2 separate regions of the Homo sapiens genome follow, and region 1 is linked to region 2. The links come from fine-mapping of genetic effects on gene expression. Tissue or cell type: iPS cells. Region 2 holds a variant in brackets; the other region holds the start of a gene. All regions are shown on one strand. Distances are from middle to middle.

Region 1 (8,347 bases), 48 kb after region 2:
GGACCTTCAAGCACTTACTCAGACTAAAGACTTTGTACCTTATCTGAAGGCACCAAATGATTACAAACCCTTCATAAAAATAGGGTGTTCCTCAGATAAATGGGTCTGGTGAGAAAGCTCTGATCCAGAAGAAAAAGGAACAATTCCCAGGATGTTTATTTTGCTAGGTACTAAGCTAAGAATTTTACATGCTGCTTAATTTAATCCTGACCAAATAAGCTAAGATGCAACAATAAGCATCTCCAGACGAGGAAGTAACAAAAAAATGGGAATTCAAAATCAAGATGATCAGATGCTCTCTTCTCTGCAGCATGCCGAATATGTTCATCTTGGATAAAAAGCTACAATGGCCATGGAAAATCACCTCCCCTTTTTCCTCCTTTGTAAGAATGTTTCTGTTCTTTGTTATCCCTTGTTTCATGATTCCATAGGATTCTGGATACCAATAATGATGATCTTGAGTCATTAAGGATAAATCATTATTAGTATCCATTTAAGAAGGTAAGGAAGTATATAATGCATGTTCTCTAAATTATTTAGAAATCCCCTTCAGATGCTTAAAGAAATGAGCCTCATTTTGCTGGAAAATGAATCTCTGTAGATTAGCTCATTTCTTTAAATAATGGCAATAAAATGAGCCACGATTTTTTTCCCCCACTTTGAAGAAGGAAAATTTACTACCTGGTTTATATTCTGGTAGTAGGAATTTCCATATAACATGCACAACAAAATATACACATTCTCATAATGAAAGAGTCCAAATGGAATTTATTTCTAAATCTTTAATCACTTTGCACTATTCAAAACCTTGTTCTTCTCCATCCATTCAACTTTTATTAAATGTCTCCTCAGTTCCTGACACTGTGAAGCATATATAACGATAAATAGCTGGCATATTAAATACATGTATCAAATTTTAAGGAGTGATGGAAATAATCAGACCATGTTTCAAATAAAATGAATGCTTATAAACTGTTTCATATCCTGTTTTGTGAGATTGAAAACACATGCAGATTAAATATGATTTCACTAAAATATTGTATCCACCCAACAATTAAAATCAAAGGATTGACTCTTCAAAGCTCATTAACCAGATATGTTCATTTATATTCCAATATTGTTTCTTACCATAAGTTTCCACAATCTCCAGCAGAGTTTTATGCAATTTGCTTATACTGTTGCACAATTTTATGCTGACAAGACAGTGGATCACGACTCAGAAAAATAATATAGTACATCCATGACTAGCAGATGCTGGGATCTTCTATGGCTAGGTTTTCTCAAAATGAGGATCAGTTGTCACAGGCAGACATGCATTCAAGTGTGTTCTCTATAAACTTTATACTGTAACAAAGAGGAATGCTATATGACACAGTAACAGTCCATTATGGCAATAACTACTGAAGTAGTGTTTTTTGGTTTGTTTTTTGGTATGATTATCTGAGGTTTAAATATTTTATTTTGAATGCCCATTAAATATTTCTTTAGCTCTCATTAGTAACTTTTTCCATGTTTACTGCACTGTAAAGAATGCAGTATGCAGTTATTAAATTATTTTTAAATGCTGCCTTGTGAAAACTAATCATTTCAAGCCAGTAGCAGAAACATTTAAATAGCTTTAACTCTTTGGCATAAATGCCTAGGAGACATGGGATCATCTGCTACAGTAATGATCTTGCCAGAGGTTTGTGACAACCTACCATGTTTTAATGAAATTTACTATGGATCCCTCTAAAATGCAAAAGACTCTTCATGTTTACAAAAGGTTATAATTATGTTTTTTTTTTCAGATCAAAGTCCCAGAAAATGAAGCCATAGTAAATTATTTAGAAATTTACCAACAGCCTCAAAGAATGTATTCCTTCCATATTGATTTTAAAATCCAGTGTCCATAGAACCAGATTCCTGATACTAACCACAAAGACCTATTCCAATTTTTAATGCCTCTTTCTATCAAGGTATCAAAAATAATACCTTTAAATGCCAGGCTTTTTATGTGTGGGGTATAACTTATTGAATATTGCTGCCAAGTGATGTTAATAATTGCCTAACCATTACTGACGCATTTGTATTATATTATCAGGCTGCACTCTTTTGTGCAATCCAAACATGGCCATAGAAGCTGTTAGAAGAGAATTATCAGAATAGATATAAGAGAATTGACTCAACCGAACAAAACTAAAAATGGTGGTAGACACAGCCAAAAATCCAAGATTGCACTTTTCTATTTAATAAATAACCACTACTATATACTGAGCATTATGGTGTTCTTACCGTTGTATGCTAAAAAAGCAATAAAGATCCTACTGAATCTTTTATGGCTGAGAGGAGCTATGGCATGGTTAAGAGGGTAGGCTTTGGAGTTTTAAAGAAAAATCAAACCCTGGTTTAGCCCCTTACTAGACATGTGATCTTGGGCAAATTTACTTAAAGTCACTCTGAGCCTCATATGCCTCATCTGTAGAATCAGGTTAATCCTTTATCATAGGGTTATCCTTTTTCATGACTGAATGAAATGTAAAAGCATCTCATGCCATACCATCAGAGATAATCACAACAAAACTTAAAAGGAAATGTTTAAGCTATTTTTCCTAAATACCAATGAGGTGATATTTATTTAAAACATTAGGTTGGACTCTCACAGCAGAAAGCATATCCTACTCATCTTCGTATCCGCAGGAGCTAGCATAAAACCTAACACAAAATACGTTGTGGTTGAATGATGTAAATGATGATATCCCTAAGTATATTCATGTCATATCCATTGCTTAGCCCTCCCATCATAGTGATTCTCTTGTCTTCATCTCCACCACCAGCACTTGACCCCAAATTTGTCACCTGGATTTCTGCAGTCGACTCCTAAATGAGAGGGCAGTGTCTACTCTGGCTTTCTTTCAGTCTTTTTCCTGTTCCAATCCCTGAGCTGCATGGCTTCTACTCACCCTGCACACCTCAGCTTTTTTTTTTTTTTTTTTTTTGAGACAGAGTTTCGCTCTTGTTGCCCAGGCTGGGGTGCAATAACGCGACCTCAGCTCACTGCAACCTCCACCTCCTGGATTCAAGCGATTCTCCTGCCTCAGCCTCCTGAGTAGCTGGGATTACAGGCATGCACCAGCATGCCTGACTAATTTTTTATTTTTGTAGGGATGGAATTTCTCCATATTGGTCAGGCTGGTGTTGAACTCCCAACCTCAGGCGATCTGCCCACCTCAGCATCCCAAAGTGCTGGGATTACAGGCATGAGCCACTGCACCCGGCCCACACCTCAGCTTTGCTACTTCCCTGGGGAAGCCTTCCCAGGTCTTCCTACAAGTCCTTAAAGAATCGTGTATCTCTCCTTCACAGAACTTATTAATTTATATTTCTTTAGGTGATTATTTAATGAATGTCTTTGTGTCTTCCCAACTGAAGTATAGGCTCCAAAAGAGGAAGTATTTGTTTTTGCTCCCCAGGTGTCTTGAGTATTCAAAATTTTATTGAATGAGTAATTTTCATAAATATTAATATTCTTAAGAAACCATCTAAAATCCATCTCTGTGGTACCCTGAAACGATTTTAGAAACACTATAACAATAATAAAAAAAAATAGGTACAGAGTACTTACTGGCATATCAAGTCAAAATAAACAAAAGGGCAATTGGAAGGAGATGTAAAACTTATTTTTTCCCAAGTTTGAAAATATATTTTCTTAGACTTAGAACCTCATTTCTTTCAAGTTGTAAGCATATGCTAATTTCATAGCAGGCAACTTTTTCTTCCAGGACCAAAGGCTATAAGAAGCTTTGCAGAAGAAATTGAAATACAGTGCAATATTGCATGTAGGCATGAAATACAATCATCCATACATCTAGAGGGCTTTTAAAACATGATGCCTTAATCAGAATATTTTTAGTACAAGTTCTGGCCAAATGAATACCACATCGTCTGCAATGAATGCCTGAGTGGCAAGAAGCTGTGCTAGTTTACTTTAAAAAGAAATAAATTCACTTAAGGGAACCAGAACTGGGTTTCATTGCCCCTTAATTAGATGGCAATATGAAGTTGAGTGAGAAGTTAGTGCTAAATTTTCTACGTGTAGTTTTAGAATTATATACTAGTTGTGATATACTTACCAATTGCAGATTAGCCAAGCAAGAAAGTAGAATTTTATGCTAAAAGCTTAAAATGGGACGAAGAAAACATATCAGAGGTAGCAGAGATTTGATAATATCAATAGTAAAAAATGCAGCTGTAGACATGGGAAACCATGTGTGTATCATAAAGAAGTTAAGTAAGGTGACTCGGATAAAACACCTTCACTGGATTCCCCTAGGGCATCTTGCTCCGGCAGCGTGAGCCCAGAACGCTAGCCCTCCTCTCCTGCGCAGGCGCGCTAGGACCGACTTCTCCCTACAGTAAAGTGACGATAAACTCTGTGAAAGGTGGGACCCCAGGAAACCTGGGCCAGAGCAAAGAGATGACACTTTAAATCCTGGAACCCTGATGGGGTCTTTATTCCATTTCCCCCCTGCTGACTGCATGGCCTGTTACAGGAGTAGCTCACCTGCGGGGAGACCACAACCGTGGAGGCTGCGAGCCGCAAGGCGCGGCCCTGCAGACTCCGCAGAGCGCTTCCCCGCACGCCGGTCACCGCCTGGCCCGGGAGCACCCGCGCGCGAATCTTCTCTCCATTCAGAGTACAGCCTGGTCCTTCCACCATCTCTGTGGCCGGCACTGTGGCCCACCGATTGCAGGGCCTGGTGAGAATACCGCTGTGCAACTCAACGCTGCGCGGGCACTGACCGCACGCAGAGGAAATTCAAATCTCGCGCGCGTCTGGCCCCGCCCAGGCCCCGCCCAAACAGCACCCTAGCTGTTGAGGTCGCTCCCTACGGCGCATGCGCTGTGGTTCACCCCCGCCCTAGGTCTTGCTGTGGGTTTATTAAGAAAACGCAAACGCGCGTGGGGCGGGGGGCGTGGAGGACAACTAACTAGGCTGAACTGTAAAAGCAGAAGAAATTGGGACTTGGAAAGCTCTGAATGTATTTTCTTTGCGTTAAAGTTTTGCCCTTGTCTTTGAGCTACTTAGTATACACACATTTTCTGATCTGGTCCTCTTAATCTGTCCTTGTCTGTGACAGGACAGATATGTCACAGACAATCTTGTTTTTGGCTCTGTTTTTGGCATGCTATATTCGGACGTGGGTGGGATAAGAGAAACGAAGAAGAGGGTTTTTGGAACAAACAGCAGAATATATTCTAGTGTCTATATTTAAAAACTCCATTATTAGATAGTTAAGTGAGCCCTACCTAAGTGCATGCATCCATTTTGTAAGGGGACGCCCCAAGATGAAAGCTATATGAAATTGCTTTGTTAAACGTAGAGGTTTATATAAATTTGAGGGTAATGCGTAGCTTTTCAAATTTACCCACAACCCTAACCAAAGATGCATGCATACATATAAATCTATGAAGTTTATGACTCCATATAGTTTTGTAAATTATAAAGTGTATTCTTTTTTGAAAACTGAAATACTACACATTAAAACAGAATGTCAATTTCTAAGTGATTTCATAAGCATAGCACTGTGCTGCCGTTAAACCACAAGAGCATATACACAGGTGGTTGCTGACTTAGGATGCCCCAGCGTAACAGTGTTTTGACTGTATGATGGTGCAAAAGTGACACACAGTAGAAACTGTACTTTGAGTACTCATATAGCCATTCTGTTTTTCATTTTCAGTACAGTAGTCAATAAATTATTCAACACTTTATTATAAAATATGCTTTGTGTTAGGTGATTTTTCCCAACTGTAGGCTAATGTAAGTGTTCTGAACACATTTAAGGAGGGCCTCGTGAAGCTATGATGTTTGGTAGGTTAGATATATTAAAGGCATTTTCGACTTACTGTATTTTCAGTTTACAACGGGTTTATCAGGACATAACCCCATCGTAAGTTGAGGAGCATCTGTATACTAGAGAGTTGAATTTGAATATACTGAAGACTTGATTGAAATTTTGAAAAGTATTAAATCTTTCCTTTGCAGGGAGAGATTAGTGATCAAAAGTTGGCTGGATCAATTTCAGGACTATTTGTACTTTACTCCCTTGTTCAATTCAATAATCTCTGTCCTTTGATGGAGAAAAGTCCTATATACCTTCTCCTCTTTCAGCGTTGTACTAGTTATTTATTGTTACCTCATCAATTATCCCATTTGTTATTTCAAAGTTTCTGTGGGTCAGGAATTTGGCAATAGTCTAGCTAGCCAGAGTCATCCTGGCTCAGCATTTCTCAAGAGGTTACAGTTAAAATATTAGCCAAGGCTAAAGTGCCCCAAAGGCTTTTTGTAGCTAAAAGATCCACTTCCGAGATGAGTCACTTGCATGGCTGTTGGCAGGAGGCCTCAGTTTCTCACCTCTTGTGTCTCTATAGTGCAGCTCGGCTCTTCTAATGACATGGCAGCTGAGAGTGTGATCCAAGAGAGAAGTCAAGGAGAAAGCTGCAATGCCCTTTATTACTTAGTCACCCTTTATTACTTAGTTTACTATGGTAACTTACTTCTTATTCCATTCATTAGAAGCCAGTCATTAAATACAGTGCATTCACAAGGGGAGGGGAATTAAGCTGTGATTTGAAAGGAGGGATATCAAAGAGCTTGTGGACAAATTTAAAAAATATCAACCTGTTCATTTATCTGATTCACCTCATTTCTCTTTAAGGTGTTGTGTACTGTGCACATTTGGGTCAAATACGATCTTTAATTAGTAAGAGTTGGGGACTGACACTGAAGGCATTAAGAGATTTCACTGGCGTGACTGAAAGGCGGAGTCAGATTTTGTTTTGTTTTGTTGGCTGGAGTGCAGTGGCCTGACCTTGGCTCACTGCAACCTCCACCTCCTGGGTTCAAGCAATTCTCTTGCCTCAGCCTCCGATGTAGCTGGGATTACAGGCACCTACCACCACGCCTGGCTAATTTTTGTATTTTTAGTAAAGACGGGGTTTCACCATGTTGGCCAGACTGGTTTTGAACTCCTGACTTCAAGGGATCCACCCGCCTTGCCTCCCAAAGTGCTGGGATTACAGGCATGAGCCACTGCACCTGGCCCAGATTTTGTTTATATGTGACTAGCCTCTGAGTCCTTTGGTATATCTCTTTGATCTTGCTTCTTACGTCCAATCAAAAGCAAACTCGCATACGCTGTGTATCTACATTGTCTGTAAAAAGAGCCCACAACATTGCAAGCAAGCCTACCCTAGTGCAGACCCTTGCTACATTTCAGCTGGACTATGTCAGGATCCTGCTAACTGCTATCCTCCTTGAATTTTCTCTTGTGCACTCTTACCAGAGGAACCTTCACAATTTCTTCTTAAGTCCAATTTACTAATTTCAGTAAATTTGCTAAATCTATTAAATTGTGCTATTTGATAACCATATATATATATGTCATTTATCTTTTCCAAAACTCACTTTCTTCATATGGACAATAAATAATACTTTTTCTATACACCTGCATATGATTGCTCTAATTTCCATACACAACATAGCTTATGTGAAAGCACTTTGAAAACTATGAATACTCTACGAAATTAAGATAAATTGTACTTATTCCCAGAATATATTTTGTACCTTTTGTTTTTTGGCTCATGCTATTATTCTCACCTTTTCTTTTTTCCAAGACAGAGTCTAGCTCTGTCTCCCAGGCTGGAGTGCAGTGGCGTGATCTCAGCTCACTGTAACCCCCACCTCCTGGGTTCAAGCAATTCTCCTGCCTCAGCCTCCCGAGTAGCTGGGATTACAGGCACCCAACACCACCCCCAGCTAATTTTTGTATTTTTAGTAGAGACCAGGTTTTGCCATGTTGGCTAGGCTTGTCTCAAACTTTTGACCTTAGGTGATCCGCCCACCTCAACCTCCCAAAGTGCTGGGTGGGATTACAGGCATGAACCACCGTGCCCGGCCTATTCTCACGTTTTTAATACCTCCTCTTTTTCCCAGTTTACTGAAGTTCTCCCAATTTTTTTTTTTTTTTTTTTTTTTTTTTGACATGGAGTCTCACTCTGTCACCCAGGCTGGAGTGCAGTGGTGCAATCTCGGCTCACTGCAACCTCCATCTCCTAGGTTCAGGCAGTTCTCCTGCCTCAGCCTCCCGAGTAGCTGGGACTACAGGCATGCACCAACATGCACTGCAACCTCTGCCTCCCGGGTTCAAGCAATTCTCCTGCCTCAGCCTCCCGAGTAGCTGGGACTACAGGCACGCACCACCATGCCCAGCTAATTTTTGTATTTTTAGTAGAGACGGTTTCACCATGTTGGCCTTCATGATCTCGATCTCTTGACCTCATGATCCGCCCACCTCAGCCGCCC
Region 2 (8,347 bases):
ATTTGAAGTCATACAAGGTTTGGCATAGCCCCAGCCTCTAACAGGAACTTAATGTTGGTTGAACAGAATTTTAAAAATAGACTTGTTCATAAAGGAGATCTTATTTCTTATTATTTAATAAAACAAGAAATATCTTTAATCATATATTATAAATAGTGTTAGTACATGAGAAATGTATTCACTACAGACAGAATATCTTATTTTATTGTGTCGCATAATCCTTTCCTAAAAAAAAAACACTGCTTCTCCCCAGTTACAAGAGACTAAAAGCATACTAAAAACACTTTATCGTCATTACTAAATGCATTAAATACACATCCTAAATGGAATATGCTGTATATCCGATGAAATACATAGAACGTTCATCAAGGCAAAAGAAAAGACGTAGCCAACAATGGAAAGATGGCACACACAAGAAAAAAAAAGAACAGTTCTCAAATATTGCAGTAACTTTTCAATGTATCATAGATATTCTATGACTTTTCTATGAAACAGAGGAGGACCAAACATTATACACAGTTTGAAGAGACTAAATGCCAGAGAATCTACAGATATTAGCATCCAGGAATAATTTTTATTCCTGGCCCATTTTCTGCCCACTGGAAAAAATTGCATTGTTTTTCCTTCCCAAGAGGACACACAAAAAAATTCTTTCCATTGTTAGGTCCAATCTTCAATACTGTTTTCATGGTGGAACGCTTGCCATGGTTGCAGAATGGGAAGGACAAATCTGCCCACTGCAGGAAAAAAAGGTAAATTTACAAGTTTATACAAAAGTTATCATGATGTACAGGCTAACCCTAGGCACATGTGATTAGTGCCATATAGTCTTCACTGCTGTTATCATTAATTTGACATTGTAAAATAGACCAGTAATTAGTCGTCGCCTTTAAAAAAGCTTATATCCTAAAAGAAGCATCTCTCTTACAAATTTGTTTGAATCACGCAGAAAATGGCCATAATTCTGAGCTTCCCTTTATCTAAAGGTATATTTACAGAAGTTTCTTCACTTTGTTAAGAATAATTGAAAACTATCAAAATCTTGCTGTAATCACCAATATCCCTGCTATAGGTCTGTTTCAGTTAAACCTGTAAGATCAGGTGAGGTGCGGTGGCTCATGCCTTTAATCCCGGCACTTTGGGAGGCTGAGGTGGGAGGATAGCTTGAGCACAAGAGTTTGAAACCAGCCTGGGCAACATAGGGAGACCCTGTCTCTAAAAAAATCAAACAACAACAAAAAAAACCCTGTAAGATCAAAGATTTGTCATGATTTTAATATTAAACTTCCTTAGGAAAAGAAAGAATCAAATACTTACGCAGACTGAATTAGACAGATTCTATTATATTATTCTTACTAATTTTGACCTCAAGAGAGATATGAAAAAGGCTATTATATTTTTAGCAATACCATGAATATTGCTAATAATATTTTCCCATTACATCTATAAAAGCTTCTTGAGGAGGAAATCTGTGAATTTTGTAGGGTAGAGTTACACTGTGTTTAGAGATTGAGGTCTAAAATCACTATCCAGTTTTCCCCGGGAAATTCCTTAAGAAGGTATCACATTGAAGACAGATATTTGATCTTTCAAAAAGTCCACCAGAAAATCTTTGCGCCAGCACTGAAACATATCAATATTTTCTTTTTTCAGTTCTATTCCAGATGAAGAGTAACTAGAAAAAATATGTATCTCTGAACATTAGAATCACACTCAGCCTGATGAGATGCTCACACCGAGGAATACCGGAAGTGAGACTGACTAAACGGACCTGAGGTTCTTATCTCCTATCTTAGGTTCATCTTTAGGGATACATCCACAGACTGGAAAGGCAGGAGGAATCGCCTATAGCTAAATTGCTATGGTGCCATCACTTTTTTGGGTCAAGTGTGGTTAAGTAGGATTTGATAAGGTTATTGTAAATCCCAGGCATGTAAATTGCTTTTCTTATAAACCTTTATCCAATGCATAAACCAAAGGTTTTGATGTAGCGCTGAAGTTAGGAAGAACAAATTCTTACCTTGGATTATTAGCCACATATGTACTACTAGTACCTACTAGTCACTCAGTGTCTTTCTAACTTTACAAGCTAAGTGCAACACTTCTAGACTTATGATTATAAATATGATATACTCTAACAATGTAATAGCTATTATTTTATTAAATTTCTTGTGGCTGAACATCTGAATTTTAAGTTAGTCAACATTCAAGCTTTAGACTGAATGCCAATATGGCTATTTCAAATTTAAAGGTAAAAGGTAAAACTAGGAAAGTATTGCTATTTGTTATACATTAATAACCAAAGCATTTAATTACATTTTAGTAAGCTAGATAAATCTTACACATACTTCAAAAAATCCACATTGTGCTTCTCTAGGTAGAGGACAGGCATAAAACTGCCTGCCCTTGTTTTCCCCATCCTTCCCCACAACTCGGAGAATGCAGAGGCGGTTGTGTTTACTGCAGCGAGGGCTGTCAGGATTTAAGGTACGAGGGCCATCTGTCATATTAATTTGAAGTTCACTGTAATGACAGGTTACAAAATAAGTACAGCATAGGAGTGCTAAGGGACCATTCACACCACTTTACCCCCACATGTCAGAATTTCACTTGTACCAAGAAATTCTATCAAAAAGTGGACCTCGTTAACATTAGGTCATTATGCAAAAGGCTGTCTTTATTCTTTGTTTTCCCAGGTAATTCTAATTTATTTCCAAAGTTACCTATGTACCTAAAACACGTAATTTAACTTTCTAAAGAACAAAAGCAGCTGGACTGTGTATCCAGTAAATCAAATTTTATTTTTCATTTGTGATATTCAGTTCTTTTCTTACCCAATATCACACTGTAGCCACTTCTTTTTCCTCTAAAATATTCTCAAGTCCAGGTTCTCCATTCCCACTGGCCCCAAAGTAGCTAGTCACAATCTTCTCTAATTATTTTCTCATCGGTAGCAAACTCTCATCAATGGCTCTGACAAGGCCATAGAAATCACTCTCTCTGCTGTCCACTTTAAAGACAATTTTCTATGCTTTTCTTTGATCAAGGCTACTATAATAGTCGCAATCATATTCCTGCAAGAAACAGGCTGCCTGGCAGAGAGCAAAAATGTGAATTTTGTAAAGCTAGCAGGGAAGCTTTATTCTCCCCCATAATTAGGATCAAGAGTATTTGGAGGTTGCCCTCATACCCAGTGTACACAGGCTAGAAGCTGGCCTTGTACTGTAGCTGTATAAACAGAATTTTCTTCTTGAAAAGAAGCTTATTTAAATTTTCTGTGTTGTGCATATTTTAATAATGCCTTTAAGAGAATTAGTTTTTTAATAAACTGGTTGAAGAGAAAGTGTTCACATTCATTAAAACCAGAAGTCCCCCTCTTAATATTCCTATTTTTTTTTAACTCTTTAATGATAAAACAGTTAATCCATTCTCATCTTTTCGGTAAATATCTAAAGAACAAAAATATCATTCTTAAATAATTGTTAAAAAAAAACTTAAAAATCAAAGGTGATTTCCCTTTTTCCTTGCTTCCTAAACTGCATTTTTTACACACTTGTTTCTATGATGCCTCAATGCATCATATCTAATTGAAATGTTCAGAGAATGCAATCTCTTATTTGTGATTAAATGGACTGAAATTCATTTATATAAAGGATGCTTAAATATACTGCTTTGAAAATGTTTGCTGGGATGAACTCAAACATTCTGAGGGCAGTTTTTGAAGGTTTCTTCAATAGCCATTTGTAAAATAAGAGCAGCTGCAGGCATTGCTAAATCAATCGTCACCATTAAATACTTCACCAGCAACTATTTTGATGGTAACTTTTCCAGGGTAGAGGGGTGGTGGCTGTATTTTCAAGTCATGGGTAATACCAGATCAGAAATAGGAAAGCTGAGAGGCAGAGGACTTTTCTTTTCCACAACCTTTCAGTTCACCAACCCCCTCCAAAACTCCATTTCACCAATCTCCTCCAAAACTTTAACTTCAAGGGAAGCCAGATATCTGGACAGTTGTAGAGAAGTCAAGAGATTTCACAATTAAAGCAAGTGGTTCATAAACAATGCTCTCTTAAAATTAAAGGAGAAAAGATTAAGAATATTAACAAAATTAATGAAATGATGCATTCTTATTAAAAATTGTGTGGACACAAAAACAGTTTTATATATTATTTTAGAGGCGGCTGTTTTGGATAACGGTTGAACATTTTCTAACCTACTTGTTTCAACCTAGAGAGCTCCAGGGTTCCACATATCCAGGGAGAGGTTTAGATTCTGTATTAAAATTTTTCTGGGGAGAAGGGCCAAGGTAGAAGGTAGGATTAAAGTAGAAAGGAGAGGCCCAAATGTCATCTCTCTGCCTTCACTTCTGCCTTCCACTCCATTTCTTCCCTTAAAAATTAAATTAAAAACATAGCCACAGGCTGGGCATGGTGGCTCACGCCTGTAATCCCAGCACTTTGGGAGGCTGAGCCGGGCGGATCACCTGAGGTCGAGAGTTCAAGACCAGCCTGGCCAACATGGTGAAACCCCGTCTCGACTAAAAATAGAAAATTAGCTGGGCGTGGTGGCGGGTGCCTCTAATCCCAGGTACTCGGGAGGCTGAGTCAGAAGAATCCCTTGAACCCGGGAGGCAGATGTTGCAGTGAGCTGAGATCGCGCCATTGCACTCCAGCCTGGCAACAGAACAAGACTCCTTCTCAAAAAAAACAAAAAACAAAAAACAACAACAAAAACATAGCCAC[G/A]TGTGATCTTATTCTTGGTACTCAGAGTGTGGTCCACTGACCAGAAGCAGCAGCATCACCCGGAGCTTGTTAGAAAACACAGACATATCCACCCCTACTCCTGATTGCCTGCAGAATCAGAATCTGCATGTTAGCAGGATTCCCAGGTGATTCATATGCACATTAAGTTATGAAGCACTGAAGTAACGTAACCAAGATACTAATGCCACCTGTATCACACTGGCTCTAAATATGCACAGCTAATCTTAATTTTATGATAGACAACATTATCCAGGATAATTAAATGTTCTGATTAACTGAGGACATCTTAGTTCCTCTTTGTTTTATAAAAACTTTCTAAAATATAGCAGATTTCTTACTTAAATGTAGCATACAGAATTGTTCATTTTCGTGATCATGACCATGATTTTGAATATTAATTCTGGGTTATAAGTGATCTATTAATACAACAGATCGGGGCTGGCAAACCTTTTCAGATAACGTATTTTAGGCTTGCTGGTCTTACGGTCTAAGTTTGTTATCACAAAAAGCAGCCATAGATAATATCTAAACAAATGTAAATAAAGCTTTACACAAACAGGTGGTGGGATGGATTTGGCCCTGCTGGCTATAGTCTGCTCATGTACATGTCATTAGAATCAAGAACAATGCCCGAGGCATAATAGATTCTCAATACTTATTAATAAATAAAACTGAACAGAGACCAGACAAAAACTATCATCAAGAAGGAAGACATTACTAAGCACAGATCTGTAATTTTAAAGTGAATATTATTTTTTCATGGTCAATTTATCACAGTTTAACTTAGGGGTGTCCAATCTTGGCTTCCCTGGGCCACAGTGGAAGAAGAAGAATTGTCTTGGGCCACACATAAAATACAGTAACCCTGGTGACAGCTGATGAACTTAAAAAAAAAATCACACAAAAAACTCACGTTTTAAGAAAGTTCACAAATTTGTGTTGGGCTGCATTCAAAGCCGTCCAGCCCACAAGCCTATGGTTGGACAAGCTTGGTTTAACTCATTTTATAGATAGGGCGATTCATTATAATAAAAATACTGTCTGAATTTTTTGGATTAATCGGTCTCACTGAATGTAGATTTTGTCATACAGGATTATTTCGAGGATTAAAACAAACAAAAGTGAAATGACTCATTCTGGACGGCCCCAGGTGGTTCTGAAATCCTGAGACTGAAAACTCCAAGAAGCAACCAAGAGACAAGGACATGGTGTCAGTACTTGCACTGGTGATTAAAGACAGATCTTCAACATCCCTGACGGCAGCAAATGTGAGAAAATATTAATGATTTTGTTATTGTCATTTCACCCTCCTATGTGAGCCTTTGCATCAACGCAGGAAAAATTTCAGCCTAAAACACATGCATTCTTTGAAACTGCATCACTGTGTTTTGCTCTGTGTTTACAGTAATTGGATCGACAACTTAAACTGTTTCTAGTAATTATTCTTAACTGTTTAAAAATGGGTTCAATCATCTAATTTATAAGCCAATAGCTGGATGGAATACACATCTATCTCAAGACCAATCAGAAAATATGCCTCATCAACACTGCATGGATTGTGTGGTAATGAGAACAGTAATTAAGAGAACAAAAGTCAAAGTAATTATCATATAATATTAAAGAAAAAATAAACTGGCTATAAATTATGAATGGACCACCTGCTTTAATAGTATTATGTTGTGAGCTTCTGCTAGGCATCTTGTCCACAAGATGAACACTATAGCTGCCAGACAAGGAGAAAAATGAAATAAATGACAGTAATTTGCAATTTATTCCTTGTAAAGTAGCTGGGTGCAGAAGGGCTGCTGGGTGAATTTATTTCATCACTTGACATTTATTCTGCTAGTTGATCTTGATTGATTGTGGAGTCTCAGTCCTGGTGTTCTTATATTCAATACATACACAGGCTGCAGCATTCCTAAGTAATGCTGTGCACTGTGATTAATCATATGATCCTATTACTAATGGCTTATGAAGAAATCATTTAAATTTAAGGTTACATTAATGTTTTTTTAAATCCCTAATTCATTAGTTAAAATGTCTGAGATTTTCTACAAAGCATTAAGGAAATAAAAATATGCCAAGATATTTCATCTAGGTACAACAAATGCCACAATATTTTAAGATGATCACTTCTACTTTCCACTTAAGCCACGGAACAGAAAAGACTGTTTGGAAATGATTTTCTGTTCCAGGACAGCCTCCCAACTCAAACATTCTTAATTAACTCCTTAATGAACTTCTATCATGAGGCACTAATTAGGGTTAAAGTGAAAACGTGGTGGATTTATCCAGTCAGTTAAAAGTTTAGCCCCCTTAGCTTACTTCAAATGTGAGTATATGAACAAAAGTTAAACCAGTTATCATAAATGATTATGAACAAGACATTAAAAAAACCAGTCAAGGATAAATCATCAGGATTAACTGATGGTAAATTTAGAGCTGGAATAGGAAACTTGGAGTAAACACATCTATTGAGCAGAGACTGTCTCAGAATTTGTTATGAAATAAGCTTAAGGATTCCTACAGGTTGCTCTAGGAGTTTACACCAAATGGTCCCTCACCCCACCGCTGAGAGAAGGCATCTACCCATCAGTAAAGGCACAGCTAATAAGAGGAAAAGCCAGTGAATCTCAGAATTCCACCTGAGATTACTCTAGGTCCCAACCAAAGTACATCCCTCCATAGCCGTAGGTTCCCAATCCATGAATTCAACCAACCTTGGATCGAAAATATTTGGAAACAAAAAATAATGAAACAATAAAAAAATTACACAAAATATACAGTATAACAATTATTTACACAGCCTTTATATTGAATTCAGTATTATAAGAAGTAATGCAGAGATGAGTTAAATATATGAAAAGGTGTGCATAGGTTATATGCAAGGACTATGCCATTTCATATCAGGGACTTGAGCATCTGCAGATTTTGGTATCCTGGGGGTCCTGGAACAAATCCCTTGAGGATACCGAGGGATGACTGTAACTCCTTCTCTGCCTGTCTCCCATTGGCAAGAAAAGACATACATGGGAGGACGACCCTCCATTTATATGTTATAAATTCTCCACTTATTTAAAAATGCTGGATGTAAGTCAGCTGCTTTCTGAAGGAAAAAAGAAAGCAGCTGAGAAAAGAAAATGGTGGAGAAATGTGTCCTGTGTTGGAGATATAACATCGGGTTGCCATAGTTAGGAATTCCAGATAAAGGGACTGGGAGGGCCAGATAAAGGGGGAAGGAGGGTCAACAGAAAATTGTTTCAGGAGCTGCCGATAATCATTAAGGAAAAGAGAGGATGACGTTATGTATTAAAATTTCTGTATCACAGGTGACAAAAATGAGGGTGTTCTCCTGGACATGTAGCTGGAAGTCCTATAAAATATATCTGCTCTGGTAGTATTTCTTAGTTAGAATTACAACTTTTGAATTTCAGATACAAAGTAGCAAGTATGCTTTTTAGGACTTTTAGTTAAAGAACAACGCCAGGCGTAGTGGCTCACGCCTGTAATCCCAGCACTTTGGAAGGCTGAGGTGGGCAGATCACCTGAGGTCAGGAGTTCGAGACCAGCCTGGCCAACATGGC

The links. PIP is the estimated chance that this variant, and not a neighbour inherited with it, causes the effect.
Region 1: NEIL3 starts here. The variant in region 2 is the best candidate, but not a certain one, in a credible set for the expression of NEIL3 in iPS cells (HipSci, PIP 0.58).

Annotation. Positions count from the first base shown.
Region 1 is chr4:177,306,306-177,314,652 of GRCh38, reverse strand. It overlaps NEIL3 (nei like DNA glycosylase 3), which reads right to left and starts at 4,779. Exons shown (of 10, transcript NM_018248.3): 1 at 4,544-4,779. The coding sequence starts at 4,699. RefSeq lists an enhancer at 4,609-4,698 and a silencer at 4,779-4,898.
Region 2 is chr4:177,354,679-177,363,025 of GRCh38, reverse strand. NEIL3 (nei like DNA glycosylase 3) reads right to left here. Exons shown (of 10, transcript NM_018248.3): 9 at 2,349-2,523; 10 at 90-737. The coding sequence ends at 555. LOC105377558 (a long non-coding RNA gene) reads left to right here. Exons shown (of 3, transcript XR_007058384.1): 2 at 5,856-6,031. Among named protein-coding and RNA genes, the nearest start is that of NEIL3, 49 kb to the right of the region's middle. The variant G/A (reference allele first, on the strand shown) is at 4,743.